Regions from separate parts of the Homo sapiens genome. Here region 2 is linked to region 1. Evidence: fine-mapped expression QTL. Tissue or cell type: whole blood. Region 1 holds a variant in brackets; the other region holds the start of a gene. All regions are shown on one strand. Distances are from middle to middle.

Region 1 (8,105 bases):
CACCTGGGTGGGGCCTTTCTTGACTTCTGTATTTGATTTAGTTAATTAATTAATTAATTTAGAGACAAGGTCTCGCTCTGTTGCCTAGGCTGGAGTGCAATCATGGCTCACTGTACCCTCAACCTCCTGGGCTCAAGCGACCCTCCTGCCTCGGTCTCCCAGTGTTGGGATTACAGGCATAAGCCACCATGCCCAGTCTGACTTCTCTATCTGAAACAGCCTTCCCACCAATAAACTGGTGAACTTTTGCCAATCTGACAGGTGAAAATGGTATCTCAGTAAGTTTCAAATTTATCTTTTATTTTTTAAAATCTATTTCTATTTCAGTATAGATATAACTATACAGAGATACATAGACAAATAAATGGATTTATATATTTTCTATATCTATTATTCTATAATATCTATATTTATATTTTCTATAGTATCTATATTTCTATTACTATTTTATTATGCTTGAGTCATTTTTGGGCCAGGCGCAGTGGCTCATGCCTGTAATCCCAGCACTTTGGGAGGCCTAGGCGGGCGGATCACTGGAGGTTAGGAGTTTGAGACCAGCCTGGCCAACAAGGTGAGACCTCATCTCTACTAAAAATACAAAGACCATGTCTACTAAAAATACAAAGATTAGCCGGGCTCGGTGGCTCATGCCTGTAATCCCAACTATGCAGGAGGCTGAGGCAGGAGAATCGCTTGAATCCTGGAGGCAGAGGTTGCAGTGAGCCGAGACCGCCACTGTACTCCAGCCTGGGTGACAGAGTGAGACTAGGTCTCAGAAAAAAAAAAAAAAAAGAAAAGTCATTTTTATTTCCTTTCCTATGAATTATCTGTTCTGAACTGTTGCCTATTTTCCTATTGTGTTGTTAGTCTTTTTCATACTTCTTACTTGCCTATGATGTGATTATTTTTCTCAACTTGTCATTTGTCTGAGTTTGCTTATGGTGTCATGATTGTTGTTATGCCATATAAGTTTTTAATTTTTATGTAGTTAAATTTGTCAATCTTTTCTTTTATGGCATCTACATTTTCTTTTCTTTCTTTTTTTTTTTTTTTTTTGAGATGGAGTCTCAGTCTGTTGCCCGGGGTTGGAGTGCAGTGGTGTGATCTCGGCTCACTGCAACCTCTGCCGCAGGGGTTCAAGCGATTCGCCTGCCTCAGCCTCCCAAGTAGCTGGGATTACAGGCGCCTGCCACTACGCCTGGCTAATTTTTTGTATTTGTAGTAGAGATGGGGTTTTACCATGTTGGCCAGGCTGGTCTCGAACTCCTGACCTTGTGATTCGCCAGTCTCAGCCTCCCAAAGCGCTGGGATTACAGGCATGAGTCACCACGCCCGGTCTAGATTTTCAATCATACCCAGAAAGGTCTTCTCATTGCAAAATTATAAGGAATCCATGCTTTCTTCTGTTTTTCTAGTACCTTTATAGTGTCATTTCAAAATACACACATCTTTTCATCACTTGAAACTTGTTTAGAGTAATAAACTTTTGGAGATTCAACCTGTAGGTTTTTTTGACTACCCAATTGTCTCAACCCCTTTTATTATTTATTAATTTATTTAACAACACATAACAGAATCATTTATTGAAAACAGTACTCTGGAAAAACTATGTGCACAACAATGCCTGTTTCACCCATTTTACAGTGGGTACATGGTGGTCTGGGGCATTCGTCAACTTGCTCAAGCCTTTAGGTAAGTAGAGTTTGCGGCTTTTCTGAGAATCTGCCTGCATGTTCCCTCCTTCCCCAGCCTCCCAAGCCATCCTGTGGTTCAGACACCTCCACCTCGTGCAGCCAGGCTCTCAACAAAGCCAGTAATCCAATGTGTTGGCTTGCACTGGGCTTGCATCTGTGTCTCCAGGATGCACAAGGGGTTCCAAGCCCCATGGACACATTGTCCCTGGTTTAGCTAAAGCTGGTGAGAAGCCTCAGAAGTGGCCTGACACCTTTCTGTGACAGGACAGGGTTCAAATTCAACATCTAAGACCCCAGGATGAGCGGAGGGTAGAGGGTGGTGAGCTTGCCCACTCAGCTCCCTGAGTATTGCTGGAGTCCCAGGTGCTACTTTAGTTTTATTTCTGCATGTACTTTAGTCATTTCTGTACTTTGCTCTGTTCCATTGTGTTTTTTGTGTGTGTGTGTTTGTGCATGTGCACGCACACCAGTTTTAATAACTTAGGCTCTATAATATGTTTTAATATCCAACAGGGTTAGTTCCCACCTCCTTGTTCTTCATTTTGAAAGCCTGTTTCTGGACTAGTTTTGTTTGGTTTTCTATACGAATTTTAGGAACAAATAGGGTAATTAAAAAAAAAGAACGAAACCACACACGACCTATTAATCCTATTAGTACTTTTATTGGGATTATGTTAAATTTAAATTTTACTAAAGGAGAATTGAGATCTTCATGAACCCACAGACGTCATTCATCTTTCCATTAGACTGTTTTATTTGTAAAATGAGAGTAATAATAGTACCAATCTCGTGGGACTGTCCTGAGAATTAAATGAGAAAATGCATGCGAAATATACTGGGGTGAACACGTTGCTTTGCCACTTAGCTGTGTGAACTTGGGCATGGTAGGTTATTCTGAACATTGCTCTCTCATTTGTCAATAAGGATAATACTAGCATCTGGAGTCACAGGACTCCAATGACGGTGAAATTAGACAAAGCGTGCAAAGTACCCAGTGCTCTGCCTGGAACATAAGTGCACAATAAATATTAGCTGTTTTTCTGTTTTTCTAAAACATAGGCCACCCCAGGGCAAGGAAGTGCGACTCAAAGCAAAAGCAGCTGGGCGCGGTGGCTCACGCCTCTCATCCCAGCATTTTGGAAGGCCGAGGCCAGCGGATCACTTGAGGTCAGAAGTTCGAGACCAGCCTGGCCAACACGGTGAAACCTGTCTCTGTAAAAATACAAAAAAATTAGCCAGGTGTGGTGACATGCGCCTGTAGTTCCAGCTACTCGGGAGGCCGAGGTATGAGAATCGCTTGAATCCGGGAGGTGGAGGTTGCAGTGAGCCGAGATCGCGCCACTGCACTCCAGCCTGGGCGACAAAGTGAGACTCCGCCTCAAAAAAAAAAAAAAAAAAAAAAAAAGCAAGGAAGAAAAAAAGCAAAA[G/T]CTTGGAGGGATCCACCTCAAGTGGAGGGCCCCAAGGTCAACTCATCTTTCCCAGGACCTATGTCACCGTCGGTACCCACTTCTGACTTTCCTGGTGCGTCTGGAATGGGAAGCCGCGATCCCGAGTGTACCAGGCCGCTCAGGGACTCCAGGACCCAGCCCCGGACCCAGGGTTCCGGCGCTGCCACGTCTCGCGCGGTCAGCTAGCCAGACGGGAGCAGGCGGGGCCGAGGCGGGGCCAGACCCCGAGCGCGCTTTGTCACGCCTTATGCCCGCCCCTCCGCGGCCCGAGTCGCTGGTGGGACGGCACCGGGGCAGAGAGGCGTAACGCTGTGAGGGGGCGGGGCCCATTACGCGCCCGGAAGTCCCGGGGAGGGGTGTGACGTACATCCGGCGAGTAGCTGGCGGTCCCGGGTGCTGCTGGTTAGTGTGCTCTGAGGGAGGGTCCGAGCCAGCCGCTGTTTTGCCGGAGGAGCCCCTCAGGCCGTGAGTCTGAGGGTCGCGTCGGGGAGGGGAGTTGGGGCTCGAGGGGCTGGGACGGAAGGCGGGGAGGTCGGAGCGGAGGCTGGCCCTGGCGGGGTTGGGTGGGGGGGAAGTGACACGCAGGCGGTTCTGTGGGGCCGCGGGGCTGATTCTGGGCGGGGACGGGACAACTTGGCCAGATCTGCTCCGTCCCCTGCTGTCCTCTTTGCCTGGGGTCCACTTGCATTCCGCTCGGGGGTCTCGCAGCTGCTGGGCCGGATAACAGTTTCTTGTCTGTACCGTGCGCTCCGGTTTACGAAATGGCTCCATGTCCTCTGTCTCGGAAGAGCCTCACAGCCCTCGGTGAGGCGGGTGGGAGCCCTTTATGATTATCCTTGTTTTGTAGACTCGGAGACTGAGGCTGGCCAAGGCTCCGCAGTTAGCGAGTGTGAGCGCTCGAACCTGGTCTACAGGCCCCTAGTCCAGGGCTTACCCCCAAGTCAGCGCTTGGTTGTCTTCCGATGGCCCGGGTCGAACCCTGTATTTTCTCCTTCTCCCTTCCCCTTTTCCCCTGTCTGGTCTCTGCATGGAAAAATTTCCTTATGTGCATTTGACATGGATTAGCGTTTTCTTCACGATTCTAGCCAGTGGGTCAGGAGCATCTTTGTCTTGTTGATTCCATCGGCTTCGGTTGCGACAGGGGGCTTAGGGAGATTCGCCATGGGGCTGACCTTTGACATTTACCCCGCAGCTAAGCAGAGTTAGCTAAAAGCCAGCCGCCTACTACCCCAAATCTGCCTGGAATGGCGTCTTAAAGTTGCCCTGATTATGTATAACAAGTAATGCGTAAATTTTTAAATTGGCTAATGGTCAGATTGGTGCCCTCCTTTTCTATTAACATTTGTTTGAATCATTTAGCCCTGGAATTCGCAAGTTTTCATTTTAGGTACATTAATAGTGTTTTGTTGATAGTTTAGAGACCTACCTTAAATTTTAGATTACTCTTAACTTCTCGTAAGGTGGTACAATGGACCAAGAATAGAAAATAAATAGAATGCTAGTTATTAAAATACCATTCAAAAGATGTGATGAGTTGTAAGGAAGAGAACTTCGGAAGATCATCCTCTGTGTAGTTGGTGGGTTAAAGAAGTTTTAGTTTTTTTTTTTTTCCCCAGCAATTTTGTGGTTTGGGTTTGAATTTTATGTACTGTTAACAGGAAGAGCTTAGGCTTTGGTGTTAGAGATGAGGGTTTAAGCCCTGGCACTATTACTTTTTCAACTGAGCCGTCTTAAAGGACTCAGCAAAACTAGGAGTATCCTCATCTTTATCTTGTTAAATGAGGCCAGTGATCCTTGCCTGGTAGGGTTGGTGTGGGGATGAAATGAGATGTACAAGTACTGTGCAGATTGTAAAACTACTGATGAGTTGGTACAAATCCTAAGATCTTAAGGAGAGAGGAGCCACCAAGGCCATTTTCAGCTGCTGAGGAGGCTGAGGTGGGAGGATCTCTTGAGCCTGGGAGGTTGAGGCTGCAGTGAGCCATGATGGCAACACTGCACTTCAGCCTTGGAGACAGAGTCTTGGTCTGTCTTAAGAAAAGGGGGGCGGGGGCATTTTCTTAACTTTGGGTAGCAGTGCAACCCGACTCTTTGGATCTAGTAAGGGTTTTTATTATTTTTAGCTCACCTGAAGAGTTTCTTCAGTCAGCCTCCACTCTCATCACTCCTTTACAACCCAACACTTCTATATACATTTGTACTACACTGGTTTTCAGTCAATACTTTACAGACTTGTAAAAAATGTTTACATCACTTTAGAAATTTTTCTTTCTTTCTTTTTTTTGAGATGGAGTTTTTGCTCTTGTTGTCCAGACTGGAGTGCAATGTCATGACCTCGGCTCACTACAACCTCTGCCTCCCGGGTTCAAGTGATTCTCCTGCCTCAACCTCCCGAGTAGCTGGGATAACAGGCGCCCACCATGCCTAGCTAATTTTTGTATTTTAAGTAGAGATGGGGTTTCACCATGTTGGCCAGGCTGATCTCGAACTCCTGACCTCAGGTCATCCACTTGCCTCGGCCTCCCAAAGTGCTGGGATTACAGGCATGAGCCAAGTATTTTCAACTAGATGAATTCTGCAAAGGTGAAAAGGAGAAAATGCCACACTTTAAATAGTTTTTCATGGCAATTGAACTACTTTAATTTTCCATTTTATTTTCCTTTGACACTCCTGCTTTTAAGCCATCTCCTCCCTTGGAGCATACAAATCAGCAGCAGCCGGGATTTAGCTACTTGGATGCTTTAATTCTTCCCTCCAAAATGATCTGAGTGGGAATGACCTTAATGAGGGGTGTGCTCTAAAGGTGAGCTGTGCTTCTCCAGGCAGTAGATTGAGAAAAGTATAGGAGGATGTTTGGTTTGAGGGAGTTGCAGAGGAAGGGCACATTGTTCTTTTACTTATTTACAGTAAATGGGAATTTCAGCACAGGAGCTTTATTAAGTATATTTAAGTTGTTGGACTCCTTAAAGTGCGGACTCAATTTCCAGAGAAAACTATTAGTTAATGTGATAAATGCAGTCTTTCTGCTGAAATATATTTGTTATTGAAAAGGCAAAAAAGAAATCACCTCATTTAGTATTTTTTCGTAAGAGCCTAGTATGTATCCACCCAAACTGCCAAACTTTATTTGGCTGTCTTTGGTAAGGGCCGTGAAAAATAAATATTAATTAGGCCCTAAAATTTACAGATTAGGCCATGGGCCTGATAAAAACCCAGTAATTGGATGAAAAACATACCAGCTCTACTTTTCAATTTACTCTTTTTTTTTTTTTTTTGAGATGGAGTCCTGCTCTGTCACCCAGGCTGAAGTGCAGTGGAGCGATCTCCGCTCACTGCAACCTCTGCCTTCTAGGTTCAAGCGTTTCTCCTGCCTCAGCCTTCTGCATAGCTGGGATTACAAGCAAGCGCTGCCGCGCCCAGCTGTTCATTTTATTCTTCATCTGGCATTCTTTGAATGTAAGGGGATTTTTTTGTGGGTAATGCTTTTACTGGTTACTGTTCATGAAAATTTTGAATGCAGTTGGTCATATCTAGTATAAAGCCCTGTGTTCAGATGCTCCTGCTGATGGAGAGGAGTAAAAGTGTGGACCTTCCATTTTTCTGCACCGCATCTGAGATACTAAAGCAAAAATTCAGCATGGCCAGACAATGCTGAGAAACCTTAAGACCCACCAGTGTGTCTAGATCCTACCCTCTTAATTTCATTCAGAGGTCATTTTGCTTATTACCAATATATGTAAACCTTTTAGTAGCTTTTGATAGCTATGAGAAACAATAGAAAAAGTAGTGTTAATATCAGTACCAGTTAAGTTATTTACTGGCTTGGGAACTTACTGCTATATCCTGAAAAGTATTCTTTTTTTGCTTTTTTGTTTCTTGAGACAGGGTCTTGCTCTGCCACCCAGGCTGGGGTGCAGTGACACAATCATAGCTCACGGCAGCCTCAAATTCCTGGGCTCAAGCAATCCTCTTGCCTCAGCCTCCCAAGTAGCTGGAACTACAAGCACGTGCCACCATGCCTGACTAATTTTAATTTTTTTTTTTTTTTTTTGTAGAGATGCAGGTCTCTCTATGTTACCCAGGCTGGTCTTGAACTCCTGAGGTCAGGGAGGAATCCCCCACCTCAGCCTTGCAAAATGCTGGGATTACAGGTGTGAGCCACGGGGGCCCGGCCTGAATAAGTATTCTTATTTTAAGAAAATCTATTTGTAAAATGAGTTTGGGTGTGATTATTCATGTATGAAAAGATTCTCTTCTTATCCCTTAATGGTTCTCTAAAATAGTGATGTCATTTCTTTTTATAAATTGAGACCCGTGTCTGCAAAAATGATTAAATATTGAGATAACATTGGTAAATGGAGCAGGGCAAGTGGTGCTGGCCAGTAGAATTTTGGGTGACTTTTGTTTTTTAGAGTTGTTTACAGGATAGATTAATATGTTTTTCATTCAAATCAATGTGCTTTTCATTCTTATTTTCTATTTAGTGCATCTAAGTGGCATTCTGATTCACATTATTGATAAGACTGATTTCCTAGAGTTGTTCTTCACTGGATGACAGCAGTCGTATGTCTAGGGAATGTGAATGAACCGCTGCCTGGAGGAGTAAGTCACACAGTAAAAGAAAGTGTAGGCATACCTCGGATATACTGTGAGTTTAGTTCCAGACTACTGAAATAAAACAAGTACAGTAAAGCAAGTAACACGAATATTTTGGTTTCCTAGTGCACATAAAAGTTACGTTTACACTATACTGTAGTCTGTTAAGTGTACAGTAGCATTACGTCTTAGAAAATACGTACCTTATTTAAAAAATACTTTATGGCTAAAAAATGCTAACAAGCATCGGAGCCTTCTGCGAGTCATAACCTCTTTGCTGGTTGGGGATCTTACCTCCATGTTACTCCACGTTGATAGCTGTTGACTGATCAGGTTGATGATTGCTAAAGGTTGGGATGGCTGTGGC
Region 2 (8,105 bases), 37 kb after region 1:
GTAAGTCCATTAATTCTCTTTTTCATCCCAGTCTCAGGTATGTCTTTATCAGCAGCGTGAAAACGGACTAATACAGGCATCAAGGCACCCACAGGCTACTCTGGGGAGACTGATGTGTCAGCCCATTAGTGCAATAAGCAGGGAAGCTCTGTCCAGGGAAGAGTATGTCTGGGGGCCCAGAAGGGGTGGGTTAGGTAAGGCTTCAAGGTGATTCAGGCTCTGAACCATGAAAAGAGAGTTCAGAGTTTACCAAGTGGACTGGAAACAGAGTGTTCCAGGCTGAGAGTGGCAGGAGCTGGGACAAGGAAGTGTGGCACAGCTTCCTTGTGGAGAGAAAATTGGAAAAGTGCAAGACAGGCCCAGGGACCAGTTACAGTGGCTTGGTGAGAGAGAAGATGGCTGAGGCAGGACTGGTGGTGGTGAGATCAAGTGACAACACAGGAGGTAGAACTGATGAGCTCCCTAATTTGAGACCAGGTGCTGTATCTCACGCATGTAATCCCAGCACTTTGGGAGGCTTGAACCCAGGAGTTTGAGACCAGCCTAGGCAACATAGCAAGACCCTGTTTCTTCAAACACACACACACACACACACACACACACACACACACACACAAATTAGCCAGGTATGGTGGTGCACACCTGTGGTCCCAGCTACTTGGGAGGCTGAGGCAGGAGGATGGCTTGAGCATGGGAGTTCGAGGCTGCAGTGAGCTATGATCATGCCACTGCACTCCAGCCTGGGTGACAGAGGGAGACCCTGTTTCTAAAAAAGAAAAACAAAGATCTAATTTGGGACCATGAGTGGCACTCACTTGCCATGTCCTGTTAGCCTGGTCCCTGGATGCCTGTGTGAAGGGAGACAGCCTCATAAACCAGTCCACTGGCCTGGAACTCATGCCCTAGCAAGAAGTGCACTTCTGTTGTATTTGAGCCATTACATTTGGAATCTATTGGTCATTGCAGCAGAACTTACCTTCATTAATATAGCCTCTCCCTAGCTGGGAACACTATACCAAATCATGTGTTGGGGGAGAGAGGAAGAAACGAGGATATTCCTCTCTTCTTTGAAGCTTACAAATTTCGTTGGAACTACGTATGGAAAAGGAGAACATTTACCAGGCTCTTCAGATCTAAGAGTTGCCTGTTCTTCGAGTGGGCATACTGCCTCTGTTTCTCTGGGCTCCTGAGATGACCCAGTACCTTGGAGCTCCTCCAGCCCTGGGAGCCAGCAGAAAAGCCACCTGTTGTCTGTAAGGAAGTACCCACAGGCCTGGCTGAGCTCATTACAGCAGAGAGCCAGCAACGCTTCCTCCTCTTAGATTCCGTCATGTTAGACAATCTGCCTGCTCTCCCCACTAACCGTCAAAGTTCCATGGAATGAACTTGCCACTTTTTCAGGATCCTAACCACCGCACTTTCCTGCTACCTCTGGCACTTGGAATTTCAGAGACAAAACCCCTTTTTTAGGCAGCGAGCCCTGATTTTCAGTTCCAAAGCTATGGGCACTGCTGAGTGGGACCAGAGGAGTGGTGTGCAGTGAGCTACCTGGAGGGGTTGCATGAGACCATGTCCCCTCTCCTGGATGGAGGTGTCTTCTGGTTGCCAAGAAAGTATTGAGTGATAATCAGAAAAATTCCTTGATTTTCATGGTTTGTTGCTTTGTAGCAGGTCTTAAGGAAAAAAAAAAAGTTTTTCATGGTTTGGGACAGGTCCTTAGAGATGGGCCACACCAGCCCTGGCACACCTGAGCCCAGTGTTGGGCCACCTCACACCTCTCTCGCCTCTCTTCCAGCTTTATCTTTGTCCTGCTCTTTCTGGAGTCCTTTCCTTGCATCCTGCCAGCTGGCATCCCCTTCATCCTTGCACGCCTACCTTCTACACAAAGCCTTCCATGACCATCCCAAGCCTCAGGGCTGATTCCGTGCAGTGGGCAGGCTGTAGCCTCTCTGTTCACCTCTCTGTGTCACATCTTACTGGGTACATGCCCAGTAAATTCCCCACAACTGAGATTCTGCTTTGCCTGAGCAGTGCCCTCTGGCTCCTTAGGGATGATGCTTGCTGAGGGGTTTCCTGGCTTTAAGGTCATGGTTCAGGCTGGGCTCAGTGGCTCACACCTGTAATCCCAGCACTTTGGGAGGCCGAGGTGGGCAGATCACTTGAGGCCAGGAGTTTGAGACTAGCCTGGCCAACATGGTGAAACCCCGTTTCTACTATAGCCGGGTGTGGTGGCAGGTGCCTGTAATTCCAGCTGCTTGGGAGGCTGAGGCATGAGAATCGCTTGAGCCTGGAAGGTGGAGGCTTCAGTGAGCCGAGAGCATGCCACTGCACTCCAGCCTAAGCGACAGAGCCAGATTCGTCCCCCTACCCCCCAAAAAGGGGTCATGGTTCAGACCTCCATTGTAGGCCCACCCCCTTGCTTTACTAGCTGAGGGACCTTGCCTAAATTCTTTAGCCTCTAGGAGCCTAAATTTCCTTATCTGCAAAATGGAGATTAATAAAACTTACCTTGCAGGACCTTTGTGAAAAAAACAAAAACAAACAAAAAAACTTGAGAAGTCATTCAAAGCACTTAGTTCGTGATCAATAAATATTAGCTTATTGTTTTTCTAAGACGATGAGTAGGATTTTTCATCAAAAATAAATCATTCTGGTTGCCTTGGGCAAAATAATCTGCAATATAAAATATCTATAATAAATGGCTGCTGTGTATTCATTGCTACTGTGTGCCAGGCACCATGTTAAAACACTTTATAAAAATGATCTCATTGAGGCCTTTCCACAACTCTTTTTTTCTTTTTTTAGAGATGGAGTTTCGCTCTTGTTGCCCAGGCTGGAGTGCAATGGCATGACCTCCGCTCACTGCAACCTCTGCCTTCCTGGTTCAAGTGAATCTCCTGCCTCAGCCTCCTGAGTAGTTGGGACTACAGGCATGTGCCACCATGCCAGGCTAATTTTTTGTAGAGACAGTGTTTTACCATGTTTGCCAGGCTGGTCTCGAACTCCTGACCTCAGGTGATCCACCCACCTCGGCCTCCCAAAGTGCTCGGATTACAGACGTGAGCCACCGTGCCTGGCCCTTATCCACAACTCTTAAAGTAGGTGCTAATATTTGCAGTAAGTAGATGGAGATGGCTTATCTTTCGCTGAGTTAGCTTGGTCTGATTTGAGCTGGCAATACACTGCCTTCCAGGTCATTGTCCTGCCTGTGGGTCTTTGCACATCCAGACCACACTTCCTTCCTCTTTACCTAAATCTACCTCTTTCTCATCCTTGGAGAGAAGTATTTGCACCCTTCCTTTGCCCTCAGTCTTTCTTTTTTATTTTTTCATTTCATTTCATTTATTATTATTATTATTATTATTTTTTTTTTGAGACAGAATCTCACAGTCACCTAGGCTGGAGTGCAGTGGAATGATCATGGTTCACTGTAGCCTCAAACTCCTGGGCTCAAGCAATCCTCCCACCTCAGCTTCCCGAGAAGCTGGGACTACAGGTGTGCACCAACAAGCCCGGCTAATTTTTGTAGGTCTCGCTATGTTGCCCAGGCTGGTCTCCAACTCCTGGGCTCAAACGATCCTCCCGCCTTGGCCTCCCTAAGTGCTGGGACTGTAGGCATGAGCCACCGTGCCTGGCCATGCCCAATCTTTCTTACTGCAGTTGGTGATACATGGTTTTTGTTTTCTCTATACATGTATTTTTTGGTGGTGTGTTTAATATCTGTCTTTTCCCAGACTGTCGCCTCCGTGAAAGCAGGAACCTTGTCAGTTTTCTCTCCAAGTTATCCCTCCAACGCCTAGCACAGTGCCTGGCAAATGTAGGAGCTCAACAGGGTTTGCGGAATTATTATGTGTATGTCTGAAGGAAGGATGTTGGCAGTGCGCCCAACGTGTGAGGGGAACCCCACTCTCCAAGGTTCCAGTGGCTTTAAAGGTGTCCTCGAGAAAATCAGAGGAACAGGGGGATGCTTGTTTTCCTTCCTTCCTTCTCTCTCTCTCTCTCTCTCTCTCTCTCTCTCTCTCTCTCTCTCTCTCTCTCTCTCTCTTTTTTGCTTTAAAGTATGCTGAAAGGACACTTTAAACCAAGTCTGAATGGCTCGGCAGGACTGGGGCGCGGGTGCTGGCAGGAGCCGGAGAGGCGACATCTGGCCATGGGAGCATTTGTTTCAAAGTTCAAGGCCGTTCGCTCAGGGTCAAGGTTAGTCCGGCGGGCCGTTCGGAGACCAGCCCCAGCGTGCCAGGACCGTTTCCGGGGCCTGGCCGGGGCGTTGCCGCGGGGTCGGGGACCAGCACGAGTGCTGAGTCACGCCCCGCCCGGGAGCGCCTCGGGTCAGTAACTCGGGAAGACGACCAAGCGGGAGCGGGAGCGGGAGCGGGAGCCGGAGCGAGAGCGCGCGGGCGCGGCCGACAGGTGAGATCGCGCCGCCAGGCGGGCTCTCGAGACCCCGGGCGCCCCGGGCGGGACCGGGACCCGGAAGAGGGGCGAGCGGATTAGAGGCCTGGCTCACGCCGCGTCTGGCGTGGGGAGGTCGGTGCGCGCAGTTGTGGCGCTGCGAGGAGAGGGATACTCGACTCAGGCCCGCCCCTCTCTGTCTCCCCCAAAAAACGCAACAGGGAGATGTGCTCCTGGCCGAGGGCAAAGAAAACTCCACCCTCCTGGTTTGGCCCCTAAATCCCTGCTAAGTTTTCCTAAGGAAGATGGGCTTAGGCCGGGAAGGGCGAACCGGGGAAGAGGGAACACGGGGCGGGTGTAACCCGGATCTTGCGAGGACCGTCCGAGGGTCCGCTGGGTAGAAGCGGCCGGTCCGGACAGAAGCAGGTGTGAGAGGAAAGGGAGAAACCTCAGTCTCTAAGAGGAAAGAAACTGGAGTCAACCCAGTGCCCATAGGCTCGGGGGAGCTGGGGGGTGCAGCACTAGGAAGTCTGCTTCTCCCTTCCCGAAGCCCTGGGTGCTGCAGGGACAAAGACCAGCGGTGAGTAAACTAACTCTGATGGGACGCGTGCAGTCCACCTGGAACTGAATTAGTGGCCTATATTGGGGCTCTCCTTCCAACACCACCTGATCAACACACCCTACCTTTCCCTACAAGGAGAGTCTTTTTGACCCTGGAATTTAAGGTGAGGATGGGGAGTGGTGAGGTCTCTTGGGGGCTGATGATCCTGTAGGAGGACAGGCATAGGGCAGAGAGTCAGATATAGTTTGGGATGGGACTTGCAGGTTTCTGGACTGTGCACCTGTGTTCAAAAGCCTGTATCAGGTTCCAGTGTGCGTGCATGCACCTGCCAGAGAGCCCCGGGATCTCAGATCACACCTGCCCTCACCCCAGCACCTAGAGAGGAGTTCTCCAAGGAGCACAGTGTGTCACCAAGAAGAGGGCACTGAGCCCCAGCCAGGGTGGGCTGGGCAGGCTTAGCACTACCTAGCCCAGAAGTGATGGGCTGGGCAGGCCGGTGGACTCCAGGGCCAGCCTGACTTTTGTCTGGTGGCCAAATGAAGCCAGCGTCCAGGTACAGGTGGTGGGCAGACCATGGGGACCACAAAACTGGCTCTGAGGAGGATGGACAAATTGCTTGGCCTAGGTTTTCTGTGCGGGAGTGAATATGACATCCAGATGAACCTGTCTGCCCCAGAGCTGCCCTCCCCTGGGGATAAAAGGAGGCTGCCTCCCTTAGACTTTGAGTCCCTTTTCAGAAACTGGTCTTTTGGGGGTTCTGTTCTTCAAGTAGTCCCTGAGGGGCTGGCCATGGAGTGTCCCAGGAAGGGAGGCCGCCCAACCGTCTCCATCCTGCTGTGTCCCGCAGGTGGAGGAAACCTCCATGGTGCTGTGAGTCGTGCTGTAGTGGCCTTCTTATCCGGGACGGCCACTCTGGGAATGTGGCTCTCCAGAGGCTGATGTTGAAACCTACCCTTTGTGTGAGCCATGACGACTCAAAAAGCATCGTGTTTTATTTGTAATATTTGTGAAGCAATACTGGAGCAACTCTGGGATGACATTCTTGCTTTGATCAGAGCCCACACGGTTCCTGCTGTGTGTCTTCTGAGGCACAACCTCTGAACAGCTTTGGCATAAATGTAACTTCCTGGTTTTTCAGTAGTCCTATGGGCTGCTTATTGTGGAATAATACCCTTGAGATCAGGGTGGATGCTCTTGGCAGAGAAAACAGGATTGACTGAGCAAATTTTTGTGTAAATCAGATTGTGTGTGTGTGTGTCTGTGTGTATGTGTGTTGTGGCAGGGAGCAAAGGTAAAGTTACTGAGGGGTTCCTGGACAATCAGGGTTTGTTCCGCTCTCTTAGGCCTTCTTTTAAGCTAACATTCTTGAACCTAGACAGACATAGTTAAGATTCTCTGTGATTCCCACTGGGGCTTTGGTGTTCAGTTCAAAATCAGATGGTGGATTTAGCAGTTCCTCAAAAAGTTAAACTTCAAGTTACCATATGACCCAGCAATTCCATACCTAAATATATACTAAAGAGGACTGAAGACTGGTTCACACAAAAACCTGTACACAAATGTTCATAGTGGCGTTATTCACATAGTCAAAAGGTGGAAACAACCCAAGTGCCCGTCAGCTGATGAGTGGATAAACAAAATGTGGTCTATTCATACACCAGTAATGGACTGTTTTTCAGCCAGGAAAAGGAATGAAGCACTGATAACATGCTACAACTCGGATGAACCTTGAAAACATGATGATCAGTGGAAGACGTCGCAAACAAAAAGCCACATAGTGTATAATTCCATCTACATGAATTGTCTAGAACAGACAAATCTATAGAGACAGAAAGAACATTAGTAGCTACCCAGGGCTAGGGTAGGTGGGGTACAGGATTTATTTTGGGGGTGATGGAAGTGTTCTGGAATTAGATAGTTGTGATGGTTGCACAACCTGGTGAATACACTAAAACCCACTGAACTTACATCTTTTTTTGAAATTTAAATTAAAAAAAATTTTTTTTTGAGACAGAGTCTTGCTCTGGCGCCCAGGCTAGAGTGCAGTGGCATGATCATGCCTCACTGCAACCTCGACCTCCTAGGCTCAAGCGATCCTCCCACCTCAGCCTCCTGATATCAGGGACCACAGGCATGTGCCACCATGCCTGGCTAATTTTTGTATTTTTTGTAGAGATGGGGTTTCACCATATTGCCCAGGCTGGTCTGGAACTCCGGAGCTCAAGCAATCTGCCTGCATTGGCCTCCCAAAGTGTTGGGATTAGAGGTGTGAGTCAGCCTACATCTCATTTTTTTTTTTTAAAAGATGGGGTCTCATCTAGGCTGGAGTGCAGTGGTGCAATCATAGCTCACTGTGAACTTACATCTTAAGTGGTAAATTGTATATGTGAATTCTATTTTGATTAAAAAATTAGATGGTAAGCGGTCTGTCCTATTATTAAAGACATTATTTCTGCAAAAATGACATATGCTTGTTTGAAAAAAATTCAAACAATACAAAAGCTTAAGGAAGAAAATGAAAACATTATCTATGACCACTATTAGCACTTTGGTTCAGACAGCAGGTTTGATGTGTTGAGAATTGAACTTGGGCAAGTTGTTGAACTTTTTTCCAAAATAAGGAGAAAAAACTCATACCTTAAATCGAAGATATGGGCAAAAGTGCAACAGATGCTAACTGCTGTAATCATTACCTGTATATGTGTATACATACCGAGGTGGATGTGTCTTATTGGCCATAAATGGGATTAGATCTTTCATGTGGTTCTGTGGCCTGACTTTTTGGGACTGGGCAAACTAATCTGCAACATATATTTTATATATATATATATAAAACGTGGCTGCTGTGTATTCATTGCTACTCTGTGCCAGGCACCATGCTAAAATGCTTTACGTAAATGATCTCATTGAATCTTTTCTACAGCTCGAAATCACAGTGGCTTACCCCTGTAATTCCAGTGCTTCGGGAGGCTAAGGCAGGAGGATCCCTTGAGGGGCTAGGAGTTCAAGATCAGCCTAGGCAACATAGTGAGACCCTCATCTCTACAAAAAAAAAAAAAAAAATTAGCCAGCTCAGGAGTTCAAGGTTATAATGAGTTATGATCATGCCACTGCATTCTGGCCTGGGTGATAGAGCAAGACCCTGTCCCTA

What was found. PIP is the estimated chance that this variant, and not a neighbour inherited with it, causes the effect.
Region 2: it holds the start of AIFM2, and the variant in region 1 is fine-mapped to the expression of AIFM2 in whole blood (TOPMed, PIP above 0.99).

The regions. Positions count from the first base shown.
Region 1 is chr10:70,165,915-70,174,019 of GRCh38, reverse strand. SAR1A (secretion associated Ras related GTPase 1A) reads left to right here and starts at 3,506. Exons shown (of 7, transcript NM_020150.5): 1 at 3,506-3,607. RefSeq lists enhancers at 3,012-3,091, 3,225-3,881, 3,882-4,540 and a silencer at 3,222-3,581. The variant G/T (reference allele first, on the strand shown) is at 3,122.
Region 2 is chr10:70,129,039-70,137,143 of GRCh38, reverse strand. It overlaps AIFM2 (AIF family member 2), which reads left to right and starts at 4,319. Exons shown (of 9, transcript NM_032797.6): 1 at 4,319-4,410. RefSeq lists silencers at 4,145-4,464, 4,297-4,506 and an enhancer at 4,028-4,528.